Linked DNA regions of Homo sapiens: regions 1 and 3 are each linked to region 2. The links come from fine-mapping of genetic effects on gene expression. A gene starts in region 2. Each other region holds a variant in brackets. All regions are shown on one strand. Distances are between the middles of the regions.

Region 1 (4,238 bases), 37 kb before region 2:
TACAAAAAATTAGCCAGGCGTGGTGGCGGGCACTTGTAGTCCCAGCTACTCGGGAGGCTGAGGCAAGAGAATGGTGTGAACCCGGGTGGTGGAGCTTGCAGTGAGCCGAGATTGCGCCACTGCAGTCCAGCCTGGGGGACAGATGGACACTCTGTCTCAAAAAAAAAAAAAAAAAAAAAGAGAGAAAAAGAAAAGAGTCATTCAATCACGGTGACTTTGAGTGGGGGAACCTACTCTACTTCTGCACCCGGCTGGCTCTCCTGGTTTCCATGGTGACTCTGTGATTACTTGGCCTCTCTCCTCACAGCCCCCTCCCCTTTCCCACATTATTCTCCAAAAAAATGGTCCTGTTTCATGCCTCATGTTGAATACGGAGGGTTCTGGTAGTCTCCAGGATAGTATTATTTTTAAAAATCTGTGTTATCGAGGTGTAATTTATGTACAACAAAATTCGCCAATGTTAAATGTAAAATTTGCTGAGTCATGCCAGTGTAAACACTCAGGCAATCACCTCATAATTGTGATATAGAGCATTTCTATCACCCAGAAACTCCCTCTAAACCCTTTGCAGCCAATCACCTCCTCCAGTCTCAAGCATTGATCTGGTTTCTGTGTTTCTGCCACCATGGTTGTTTTTTGTTTTTGTTTTTGTTTTTGCTTTGAGACGGAGTCTTACTCTATCACCCAGGCTAGAGTGCAGTGGCACAATCTTGGCTCACTACAACCTCCACCTCCTGGGTTCAAGCCATTCCCCTGCCTCAGCCTCCCCAGTAGCTGGGATTACAGGCACACACCACCATGCCCAGCTAATTTTAGTATTTTTAGTAGAGACAGGGTTTTACCATGTTAGCCAGGCTGGTCTCGAACTCCTGACCTTGTGATCCGCCCACCTCGGCCTCCTAAAGTGCTGGGATCACAGGCGTGAGCCACCACGCCTGGCCCACCATGGTTTTGTCTATGTATAAATGGAATTAGACAGCAGGGAAACTTTTGAGTCTGGCTTTCTTCGCTTAGTGTAATGCTTTAGAAATTCATCAAGTTCTGTGAATGAGTTGCTCTTTCTTTTCGTTGCTGTGTAGTATTCCATTGTACAGATAGATCCCAATTTGTTTATCCATTCACCTTTTGATGCATATTTGGGTTGAGTCCTGAGGATGGTTTTCAGTCACAGAAAAGACTATTTGGAAGTTTATTTCTGGAGTAAACAATTAGTTTCTATTTATTAAAGTTACTAGTTCAAAACACTACTAATTCTTTCTTAACCTTAAGATTCAACCTATTGGCCAGGCGTGGTGGCTCACACCTGTAATCCCAGCAATTTAGGCAGCCGAGACAGGAAGATTACTTGAGGCTAGGAGCTGGAGACCAGTATGGGCAACATATCAAGACCCCATGTCTACAAAAAATTAAAATTTAATAATAATAAAATATTTAAAAAGTATAAATAAAATTCAGCTTACAAACCTTGTTTGAAAATCTAGATTTTAGCAAATGCTTCTAAGGGGCTTTTTACAACTTTATATCTTCAAACGTAAATGAATAGGTTTGATTTTCTTTTTCAGTATCTCAGTGTGGAAGAAAAGTTAAATATTAAATTTGAACTCAACTGAACATGGACACAAACAATGGTCACCAAGTCCCTGAACAGGTTGTGTGAGCCCCTTGAGGCGTTCATCCAGCACTGTTTCGGAGGAATCTCTATTTCAATCTATTCCTATACATTAGTTATTGAAAAACAACACACAATCGCAAAAACAAGTTGACCTTTTTGTGTTCCTTGAGACCGATAATGAAGGGCCCTCGTGACCGGACCTCATGCCAAACAACTCGTTACAAAAAGAGCTAGGGTCCCAGCTGCGCTGAAGCTTCATGAGACCTCTCCTCATCTGTGCATGGATGAGTGGCCGACTCTGGAGCCCAGGCTGTTGCTTCCCAGTCTGGTGGTGAATCCTCCATAGTCTGGTGAGTGTAAATATGTGTATATCTCTTTTCCCTTCTCCCCTTCCCATTGCAATTTGCTTATTATGTCATTTACTTATATCAATTTGCTTATTATATTAATTTCCTTATTATATCATTTGCTTATTATATCTGCATTGCCATTTACGTGGGATAAAGCTTGTTTACCCTTAAAGGTATTGTGTGTGTGCCTTTTCTTCTCCCCTCACGCAGCTCCCGCGGCTCCCACACAG[G/A]ACGCTCAGTTATCTGTATAAACAAAACCTTCCTGAAGATTTAAATCATTCTTATACATCAAGTAAATCCAAGTTATAAATAGGATGAATCTTAAGTTCTCTCAAAAATCTGTTTATCTAAAAAACTAGGGCTGGGCACTGTGACTCACACTTGTAATCCCAGGACTTTGGGAGGCTGAGGCTGATTGCCTGAGCCCAGGAGTTTGAGAACAGCCTGGGCAATATAGTGAGACCTCATCTCCACAAAAAATTTAAAAATTAGCCAGACATGGTTGCGCACGCCTGTGATCCTATCTACTCAGGAGGCTGAGGTGGGAGGATCACTTGAGCCGGGGAGGCAGAGGTTTCAGTGAGCTGAGATCCAGCTACTGCATTCCAGCCTGGGAAACAGAGTGAGACCCTGTCTCAAAAACAAAAACAGAAAACAAAACAAAAACCCTAAATGTATCTAGATTATTTCTTTGAACAGAAATATTAATGCTAAGGTTTTTTGTCTTTGTTTTTTATGAGAACGGGGTCTCACTCTGTAGCCCAGTCTGGAGTGCAGTAATGCAATCTCATCTCACTGCAACCTCTGCCTCCCGGGTTCAAGCGATTCTTCTGCCTCAGCCTCCTCAGTAACTGGGATTACAGGCACGCAGCACCACACCTGGGTAATTTTTGTATTTTTAGTAGAGACGTGGCTTCACCATGTTCGTCAGGCTGGTCTCGAACTCCTGACCACAAGAGTTCCGCCTGCCTCGGCCTCCCAAAGTGCTGCGATTACAGGCGTGAACCACCATGCCCGGCCAATGCTAAGATTTAAATTTTTGGTTTAGCATGCTAGTCTTAGTTCTAAATCTTCCTGAGGTTATGTTACATAAGTATCCTCATCAAGGACACTCTAAGGAAGAAAGTTCCATCACCGGTAACAGAGGTTAATTAATTTTTCATCTTCTAAGGTTACAGATGTGTTCCACAAAGAAAAAAAAGGCCGGGCACGGTGGCTCACGCCTGTAATCCCAGCACTTTGGGAGGCTGAGGTGGGCGGATCACGAGGTCAGGAGATCGCGACCATCCTGGCTAACACGGTGAAACACTGTCTCTACTAAAAATACAAAAAATTAGTCGGGCGTGGTGGTGGGCGCCTGTAGTCCCAGCTACTGGGGAGGCTGAGGCAGGAGAATGGCGTGAACCCGGGAGGCGGAGCTTGCAGTGAGCCCAGATGGCACCACTGCACTCCAGCCTGGGTGACAGTGCGAGACTCTGTCTCAAACAACAACAACAACAACAACAACAACAACAAAACAAAACAGACCAAAAAAAACCACAGTCCTCCCAGTTAATTGAGATCATGTGCCCACTAAGAAAGACACCTGTGGGGCTGCAGTGGCCAGCCATGCCCTCAGCACGGCACAAATTCTGTTTGTGCCACTGAATCTCTCCCCAAAGGGCTGCTGAGAGGCCTGTTTCTATAGCTGGGCTGGGAATGAGACAGAGCCCCTTGCAGGCTTTAGAGCTCTTCCTGTTGATTCAGGACTAAAAGCTTTTCATTCAACTTGTGATGTCAGAAAGCTGGGTGACTGACCGCCACTGCACAGTGACTTGATGGCCCCTTTGAAGCACAGGCCCACAAGGATTTGCAGGTAAATTGCAAATGGCCAATATCCAGTACAAACAGCCACCCACTGTGCCTGTCCCCCTGGCAGCCACTGCTTTTGGATTACTGCCCCTTCACCCTTGGTAATGCAGGCACACGGGCACGCAGTGCGGGACTGGTGGGCAACTCTGCCCACGGCCAGGCACAGGATCCACTAGGCAAAGCCAGCTGGGCTTCTGAGTCAGGTGGGGACTTGGAGAACTTTTATGTCTAGCTGGAGGATTGTATATGCACCAATCAGCACTCTGTGTCTAGCTGGGGGTTTGTGGATGCACCAGTCACCACTCTGTATCTAGCTAATCTGGTGGGGACTTGGAGAACTTTTATGTCTAGCTAGAGGATTGTAAATGCACCAATCAGCACTCTGTGTCTAGCTAAAAGATTGTAAATGCACCAATCAGCACTCT
Region 2 (4,238 bases):
ATTCTCCTGCCTCAGCCTTCCAAGTAGCTGGGACTATAGGCACGTGCCATCATGCCCGGCTAATTTTGTATTTTTAGTAGAGATGGGGTTTCACCATGTTGGCCAGGCTGGTCTCGAACTCCTGACCTCAGGTGATCCGCTCACCTCAGCCTGCCAAAGTGCTGGGATTACAGGTGTGAGCCATCGTGCCCAGCCAATGTTTCTTGATTTAATATAGTTATTAGAATATAAACTCCATGAGAGAGGGAGTGACTTCTGGTCCACCATGGTATCTCCAGCCCCTGTATTGACATTGGCATAGAGTAGGCTCAGATTAACCATTTATTTGAATTAATTAATATATAAATACACATATTTCTTTAGTCATTTACTTAAATCAGTGCTTTTGAAGGGGGATGTCTGTGTCTTTTGGCAATTTCTGTTTTTGGTTTTCACAGTGATGGCAAAGGTGGTTCCTGGCACTTATGGAAGAAGGGATGCTATATATCTTGTAATGCGTGTGGACAGTCCCATATAACATAGTCCTATAAAGTGATATGACTTTTTTTTTTTTGAGACGGAGTTTCGCTCTTGTTGCCCAGGCTAGAGTGCAATGGCATGATCTCAGCTCACCACAACCTCTGCCTGCCGGGTTCAAGCGATTCTTCTGCTTTAGCCGCCTGAGTAGCTGGGATTACAGGCATGCACCCCCATGTCTGGCTACTTTTTGTATTTTTAGGAGAGACGGGGGTTTCTTCATGTTGGTCATGCTGGTCTCGAACTCTCGACCTCAGTGATCCGCCCGCCTCGGCCTCCCAAAGTGCTGGGATTACAGGCGTGAGCCACCACGCCTGGCCTGTGATACGACTTTCAAATGACCTGCCAGACTCTCATGCAGATGAAAAGTCTTTTTATAATTATCCAAGCCTAGAAGAAACTTTAAACATAGGAACAGAAAGTATTTCTGTGCCCTTAAACACAAACTAAATGTCCGGGAATGCCACCAGCATGTCAATAGAGGGGATGCTTGTGTTTGGTTTCATTGAAGCTTTACCAAAATGTGCTCATCTTTTCAGAAAATCCCATCACCCATGGATACTGCTTGCATTTCTAGTTCCTGACGATTCTACCTCTAGGTCAACGGTATCCTGAAAACTTCTCAAATCTTTATTGTATTTGGACCCAGACATTTACCTATTGGACCACCTATTATTTTATTTTAACTTATTTTATGTCACCTTCATTTCACAATTTGGCATACCATTTAATTTTTTTTTTTTTGAGAGGGAGTCTCACTCTGTTGCCCAGGCTGGATGGAGTGCAGTGGCACGATCTTGGCTCACCGCGACCTCCGCCTCCCGGGTTCAAGCTATTCTCCTGCTCAGCCTCCCGAGTAGCTAGGACTACAGGCGCATGCCACCACGCCCGGCTAATGTTTTGTATTTTTAGTAGAGACGGGGTTTCACCGCGTTAGCCAGGATGGTCTCGATCTCCTGACCTCCATGATCCATCCGCCTCGGCCTCCCAAAGTGCTGGGATTACAGGCGTGAGCCACTGCACCCAGCCCCATACCATTTAATTTTAAACCTCATGCGTGTGTGCAGGTTAAATGGCTCCTAGGTTCCATTCCCGGGTGATGGGTGGGAGGGTGTTAAGATTTATTTGTTATAGAAAGGGGCCCTGGGGTCTCCCGCAGCCGCGAGCTGGGCGGTCCTCCCGGCGCCAGGGGTCGCTGTAGCGCCGCGCGGCCGCGCCGGGTCGCTCTCGCGTGGCCGCCCCGCCTCGGGCCCCCGGGCCGAGTGGGCGGGCACGACTGCGCCCAGGTCGCGAGGCGCCCTTCGACCAGCAGCGCCCGGGGCGGGCGGGTATAAATGGAGCGGTGGCTCCCTCGGCCGCCTCTCTCCGCCCCGGGTCGCTGCCGCCTCCGCCGCTTTCGGGCTTCGCAGCCTGAGGAAAAAAAGAGAAAAAGATAAAAAAAATCTGAAAACGCTTCAAAATCCTGAAAAAAAAAAAGGAAAAGAAAAAACGAATCCTCGGAGAACCCGCGGGGAAGTCACTTTCGTACGCTTCCGGCCTGCCCCGCGCCCGCCGCCGCAGCGCTTGGCGTCCGTCGGTCTCCGTCCGTCGGTCCGGGGGTGAGCCGCCCGCCCGGCCCGCCGTGCCCTCCCCCCGCTCGGGCCCCGAGCCCCGCGCCCCGCGCCTGCCCCGGCGCACCACGTGTCCGTGCTGCCCTTCGCCGCCCGCCCGGGGCTCGCCGAGTCGGCGCCCACAAAGATTTGGTTTCCCTCTGCCCCGGCGGTTGTAATCTTAAACCGCCGGAGCCCGAGGCCTATATTTATAGAGAAACGCGTGTCCCCGAGGCCGCCGTGGGCAGCGTCCGGTCGCCTCTTAAAGGATTTTTACCCTTCGGAAGGGGATTCCCCGTTTAATTTTTTTCCTACTTTGATTTTTTGAAATTTGGAGCTTCGCACCAGGACCGCGGAGAAGTGCAAAGTCGCGGGGAGGGCCGTATTGTGCGGAGAGCCTTTTGTCTGCGGTGCTGCGGCCGTGGGAGCCGGCCCCCGCCTCCCGTTTCCGTCCCGTCTCCAAGCCCGCCGACTCCAGCTCGTCCTCGCCGCGCCGGTGCCACCTGTGAGCCGCGGCGCGGGCCCGGGCTCCGAAGGCGCCCCTTTGTCCTGCGGCGGGCCCGATAAGAAGTCCTCCTGGCGGGGCTCGGGGTGGTGGGGGGCGGGGAGATGAACGCTGCGGCCAGCAGCTACCCCATGGCCTCCCTGTACGTGGGCGACCTGCATTCGGACGTCACCGAGGCCATGCTGTACGAAAAGTTCAGCCCCGCGGGGCCTGTGCTGTCCATCCGGGTCTGCCGCGATATGATCACCCGCCGCTCCCTGGGCTATGCCTACGTCAACTTCCAGCAGCCGGCCGACGGTGAGTAGAAGCTGTGCCCACACGTGCGTGGGAGCCCGGAGGACCCCGGGAGTCGTCTTCTGGCAGGGCCCTCCTGCCGAGGAGGGCGGCATCACGACAGCATGTTGCCACCGAAGCTGGGAGCAGGGTGCGGAGATTGAGAACGCGGACCTGGCATCAGATGACTCGAGTTTCAATCTTGTTTCTACCACTTGCTAACTGGGTGACCTTGGGCTACTTATTAGTGTTGCTGGTAGTGGGGTTGGAAACCAAGGAGACTGTAAAACAGGATTAGAGTGAAGCCACTGGCATTCCACTGCGTGTGGTCCTTGTCAGTGGGGCTGGGCTGTTAGAGATCCTTGCTTGTGCCCCTCACAGGCTGGCCAAAAAGGCGGGACGTTTGAAACACAATTCCCCGCGAAAGTTTTACATTGTAAAGCTCCTGCCCGCTCCGCCACCTTTACTAACCTTGACTACCTGATGTTGTGCTGATAAAGGATCAGTCAGGGCAGGCAGGAAGCAGGGGGAAGGTTTCTGTGCGTTAAACTTTCGCAGAGACTTAGGTTAGTGCCACAAAAGCTGCGTGTGCCAGGCCACCTCCTTGGTCTGTGTGTTTGCCACTGGAGTGGAGAAGTGCTTTACTCTGGACAAATGGTATCCAGGCTCTGTGCTGTAGAGTGTCGTGGAGGTAGTTTAGGGAAGCGTCACTTGAAAATCTGGTGTCATTTGTCACCTCAGCTGTAACAGTGCTTTGCACTAGTCAGAGCCCTTTTATTTCATCTAATCTGAAGAAAATGGGACTCCTGAGAAGGAGAACGAATGCAAAAAGTTGGAAGCCAAGTTAGGACTCCCAGCACAGTGCTCTGCCACCTCAGATTGTGGCCTTAGCGTGGAGCATGGAGAGAGGTATGCTGCAGGCGTGGCAGGAGGGAGGCCAGAGGAAACCTGATCAGAGGCTGCACGTGACTCCAGATTAAAAGGGAACAACTGCAGAGATCATTACTGGGAGAAACAAGCCATTCTATGGCAAAGCATCTCCAGGTCCCTAGTTTTGGGGTCCCCCCTTTGTTTTCTGTCTGAGGCCCAGAGTTACTACCTGCCCAGGTTGCGGCTGAGACCAGAGAATTGGACATGTTGAGAGGGACTAGGTATTGCTACTGTCAATCCAGTGTGCTCCAAGCTGAGTTCTGTCCATGGCCATAGGAGCGCAAAGGTAGCTGAGTGTGGTCTTTTTAAGGGATAATGTACCACATTAGCTGTTGTCTGCCTTACTGACTTTTGAACAAAAGTCGTGTCACTTAGAGATAGCAGAAGCTATTGGTCAGTGTGTCTGCCAACACATACTTCTGCAG
Region 3 (4,238 bases), 93 kb after region 2:
CAGGTTTACAACCCTGCACCGCGCAGAAACCCTATTAATAGGCTTTTTTTTTTTTAATACACATTTGTATCTTGACCTTTTCACTTGTTTTTCTCAAATATTTCATTTCTGGGCCCCATCCATTACAGGGTTACCAGGAGGCAAATTTTATCTACATAAATATTCACATGAAAATAGTAACTTACAAAAAGAAAAAAAATAAGGCAGCTTCATAACACAATTATTCTTTTACACTTTTAACAATATAACTTCTCCCGTTCAGAATAAATATACACCCAATGTATGGAGCAGGATTCAAAGTGGATAGTGGCTTGGGGGTGCTTAGACAGTGTTATCGCTTGGGACCTGGAGTCCTGGGGGAGGCAGTGGTGGTCTTCTTAGACATGGTTGGGATTTTGGAAGGTTTGTTTAGCCCTCTCCTGGAGTTGCCTTGGCCCCCTGCAGCGCTGCTTTCTGAAGTGTCGGAACAAGCAGACTGCGTCTCTAAGAGGTCAAAGTCAGAAGCGTCACTTCCTCGCCGGCTGCTGGCTCGACTCCCGGCTCGACTCCCAGCCCGACTCCCAGGGCGACTGGCAGACTTTTTAGGGTCTGGAATTCAAGAATAAAACAGCAGACTTAATAGAGATGGCATGGGGTGGAAGAACAAGTGAGCAGAAGCTAGGGTTCTGATCCTGTGTGATCTTAAGCAAATCTCACAGCCTTTCTGCACCCCAGTTTCCTCATCCATACAGAAGTTGCTGAAGCCTTTTCTGGCTTTGTGATTCTACTTGAGAAGCTGCCTCCTGGGGATTAGAAAGCCACTCTATCAGCAGCACTGTCACCTTCCATGGCCCCAAAGTGGAGGCAAGCAAGGTTGCTCAACCACCTCAGCACAGGTGGGTGAGCCTGCCAGCCGGGCTAATCCATGGGCAGGATGGATAGAGGCAAAATGAGGGGAAGCAGCCAGCCAGGAAATGAAGGAAGATTCCTAGGTTCCCATGAGGAACAGTAGCAGGAGAACAGATGTGATCTTCCCCTGCCTTTCTTGGTTCAACAGCAGCCATAGTAAGTATGACGTGTTGGAAAAATTACTAGCAAGCTGCTCATCCCAACACTGGACTGGTGTCTGAGGAAGACCCACATTTCCTTTTACATTCTCTCAAATGTGATCATTTCTGATGAGAACGCATGGCCCAGCTTTGGCTGTGGAAGCATCTCATCTCAGAAGGAAAGCTTAAAGCTAGCTGTAATGACAGAAAAAGTAAAGGTCACTTGAGCATCTGCAGGTCTGTCTTTCTGGGCATCACACTAAGTGCCACTCTCATTACCCGCTCCTTGGGAGCAGTGAAACATTCCACATAGGCTGTTGTTTCCAAATTCTCAGCCTGGCTTGTAGGTCACGGGGCAGGTACTTACCTGCCCGATTAGTTTTGGCACCTGTGGAGGCCGGGGAAGAACTATTGCTGGTATCACCAGCAAGGGATGTCCGACTAGAATGAAAAGTTGGTGTTGGTCGTTTCAACTTGCTACCTGATGATGGGATAACCTTAAAAAAAATAATAAAAAGGTCACATTTTACTTGGTAAAATCTTTGCCAGAAATTCAACTTTAAAAGGTCTCCTTACACCTCCTTATATTTGCTTAGTTGAAAAGCAAATTAAAAGTCCAGGAAAACAAAGATTTCTCTTAAAGTATCCTAGGTCATATATTTTGATAATTCCCAAAATCAAAGTTTTAT[G/A]TTCCAAATAAAAATTTCAAAATGTCTTCAAATACCTTTTGTTTTACTAATTTCCCCTAGAAATGAAAAAAAAAAAATCCTCAGTAAGAATACAATAGTTACAACAAACAATTATGGTGAATGAGTAAAGGAAAAAGAAATTCAAATAATACTAGGTATCAAGATTTTGGGGTTAAAAATTTGAAATGAGTTTTAGCCCACCTATTTGATATGGAGATTCAAGTATTACTCCAATCTTTTTTTATTTTATTTTTTTGAGACGGAGTCTCGCTCTGTCACCCAGGCTGGAGTGCAGTGGTGCAATCTCGGATCACCGCAAGCTCTGCCTCCTGGGTTCACACCATTCTCCTGCCTCAGCCTCCGAAGTAGCTGGGACTACAGGCACCCGCCACCACGTCCAGCTAATTTTTTTGTATTTTTTAGTGGAGACGGGGTTTCACCGTGTTAGCCAGGATGGTCTCGATCTCCTGACCTTGTGATCTGCCCACCTCAGCCTCCCAAAGTGCTAGGATTACAGGTGTGAGCCACCGCACCTGGCCCCAATCTCTTAACACTAAGTAGGTGCAGTAACTTTAGTAAGATCTTTTAGTCATTATCCTTACTGGTAAAATGCAGATAAAATTACTTAACTTGTGGATCAAATAAACTATGAGAAGCACACGACTGTGGGACTGAGACATCAGGAACAAGTCTGTGCATGAAGAACCAGGAGACCTGGGTTTGAGTCTGGGTTCCAGGACTGATTGAAATTAACACCTGTGTCTTTGCTTCTCTCTTGGGAAATCAGGGATTAAATCCTGCCTCTTTGACTTCATTTCTACCACACTCCTCATCAGTCCATCCCAGCCACACTAGCTTCCTTGCTGTTCCACCAATGGCCCAGTGAGGGTCCACCAGTCTTGTCCCCTTGCTGTTCATTTTGCCTGGACTGTTGTTGCACAATCACCACACCCCAAGCCTACCCCAGATACACGTGTGGCTCACCCCCTCATTCCCTGCAGGGGCTCTATTGAAAGGATGACCTTAGTAGAGAGGTCTTGTCTCACTACTCAGAACACTGCTTGTACACTTCTATTCTCTCCCCTGCTTCCTGTGTTCTGCACAGCACAGAAGAGGAACTCAATAAAAACTTGCATGAATAAATGATGAATAGAAGCATTTCCCAAACTGGAAAAGAGCTACATATTATTATCACTGCTACCAATAGGTGCTATGTTTCCTATTTGAGTGATTTTTTTTGGTTTTTTAGATAGTAGGCTTAACTGGAGGAAAAAGAGTATTTTAAATGTGTGGGTGTTTTTTTTTTTTTTTTTTTTTTTTTTGAGACAGAGTCTTGCTCCATCACCCAGACTGGAGCACAGTGGCATACTTCATGGCTCATTGCAGCCTCGACCTCCCAGGCTCAAGCAATCCTCCCACCTCAGCCTCCCTAGTGGCTGGCTTATTTTTGTATTTTTTGTAGAGACAGGGTTTCTCCATGTTGCCCAGGCTGGTCTTGAACTCCTGGGCTCAAGTGATCTGCCCACCTCGGCCTCACAAAGTGTTGGGATTACAGGGGTGAGCCACCATGTCCAGCCTTAAATCTGTGTGGGGTTTTTTTTTTTTTTTTTTTTTTTTGAGGCAGTCTCACTCTGTTGCCCAGGCTGGAGTGCAGTGGCACAATCTTGGCTCACTGCAACCTCTGCCTCCCAGGTTCAAGTGATCTCCTGCCTCAGCCTCCCATGTAGCTGGGACAACAGGCGCCTGCCACCACACCCAGCTAATTCTGTATTTTTAGTAGAGATGGGGTTTTGCCATGTTGACCAGGCTGATCCTTAAATGTTTTAAACATCCATTATTTGACCTTGTCTCTACTTTGCTTTTTAAAAAATGAAAAAACAAACAAACAAACAAACAAAAAAACCCCCAAAACATTACTTATGCCACATGCTACAGCATGCCATTCTAATTTTTCTTTGAAATCAATTATGTAAATTGTTTTCCAGGACCTTTAAGACGTTTATGCAAACAGAAGAGAAAAGCAATCCATCTCATTGTTTGCTGTACTTCTTAAATTTATAAAGAAAAAGCATAAGCGATAGAAAGTGATTAACACTCAAGCACAAAATTTCCTGGCCACATAGGAGGAAGAACACCAGTTTCAGAAGCTAAGGTTCCTGCGCACTGCTGCTGGAAGACCACAGCTAGAACCCGGGCTAGAATTCCAAGTCAGGAGATGGCCTGGCTACAGAACACCAATAAGTAAGGAAAGATGAAGCCTCAAAATGAAATGAAACAGAAAATAAAACCTTAAGACAGAACAAAAGCCCTGATTTATCAGAACTGTATGAGAATTTGTACATCATTAAACATCTAAAATTTAAAATAGAACTGAGATTTTTATGAAACTGGAGCCATTAAGGAAAGAAGAAAAGCAAGATAAGCAGGGTGAGTCTAGTAGTTTAGTGGCAGTAGGTCCCCAGATCATATTCTAAACCAGATATATTTCTGAACTGGAGTTTTAGCTTGAAGTGAAATGAAC

Which allele goes with the higher level. Positions count from the first base shown, and alleles are read on the strand shown. Sizes are in standard deviations (SD) of each study's normalised expression.
For the expression in unexposed skin of the gene that starts at base 1,876 in region 2, allele A in region 1 goes with a lower level than allele G (small effect, 0.33 SD a copy in GTEx).
As copies of A replace G in region 3, the expression in transverse colon of the gene that starts at base 1,876 in region 2 goes down (small effect, 0.25 SD a copy in GTEx).

Evidence for each region. PIP is the estimated chance that this variant, and not a neighbour inherited with it, causes the effect. A credible set is the group of variants that fine-mapping cannot tell apart.
Region 1: its variant is the best candidate, but not a certain one, in a credible set for the expression of PABPC4 in unexposed skin (GTEx, PIP 0.86).
Region 3: its variant is the best candidate, but not a certain one, in a credible set for the expression of PABPC4 in transverse colon (GTEx, PIP 0.80).

What each region holds. Positions count from the first base shown.
Region 1 is chr1:39,611,529-39,615,766 of GRCh38, reverse strand. No RefSeq gene overlaps it. Among named protein-coding and RNA genes, the nearest start is that of HEYL, 26 kb to the left of the region's middle. RefSeq lists enhancers at 2,109-2,278, 3,818-3,987. The variant G/A (reference allele first, on the strand shown) is at 2,193.
Region 2 is chr1:39,574,428-39,578,665 of GRCh38, reverse strand. PABPC4 (poly(A) binding protein cytoplasmic 4) reads left to right here and starts at 1,876. Exons shown (of 16, transcript NM_001135653.2): 1 at 1,876-2,907. The coding sequence starts at 2,715. RefSeq lists a silencer at 1,622-1,931 and enhancers at 2,432-2,501, 3,002-3,051, 3,072-3,191.
Region 3 is chr1:39,481,888-39,486,125 of GRCh38, reverse strand. MACF1 (microtubule actin crosslinking factor 1) reads right to left here. Exons shown (of 101, transcript NM_001394062.1): 100 at 1,396-1,525; 101 at 1-588. The coding sequence ends at 332. Among named protein-coding and RNA genes, the nearest start is that of BMP8A, 7.6 kb to the left of the region's middle. The variant G/A (reference allele first, on the strand shown) is at 1,718.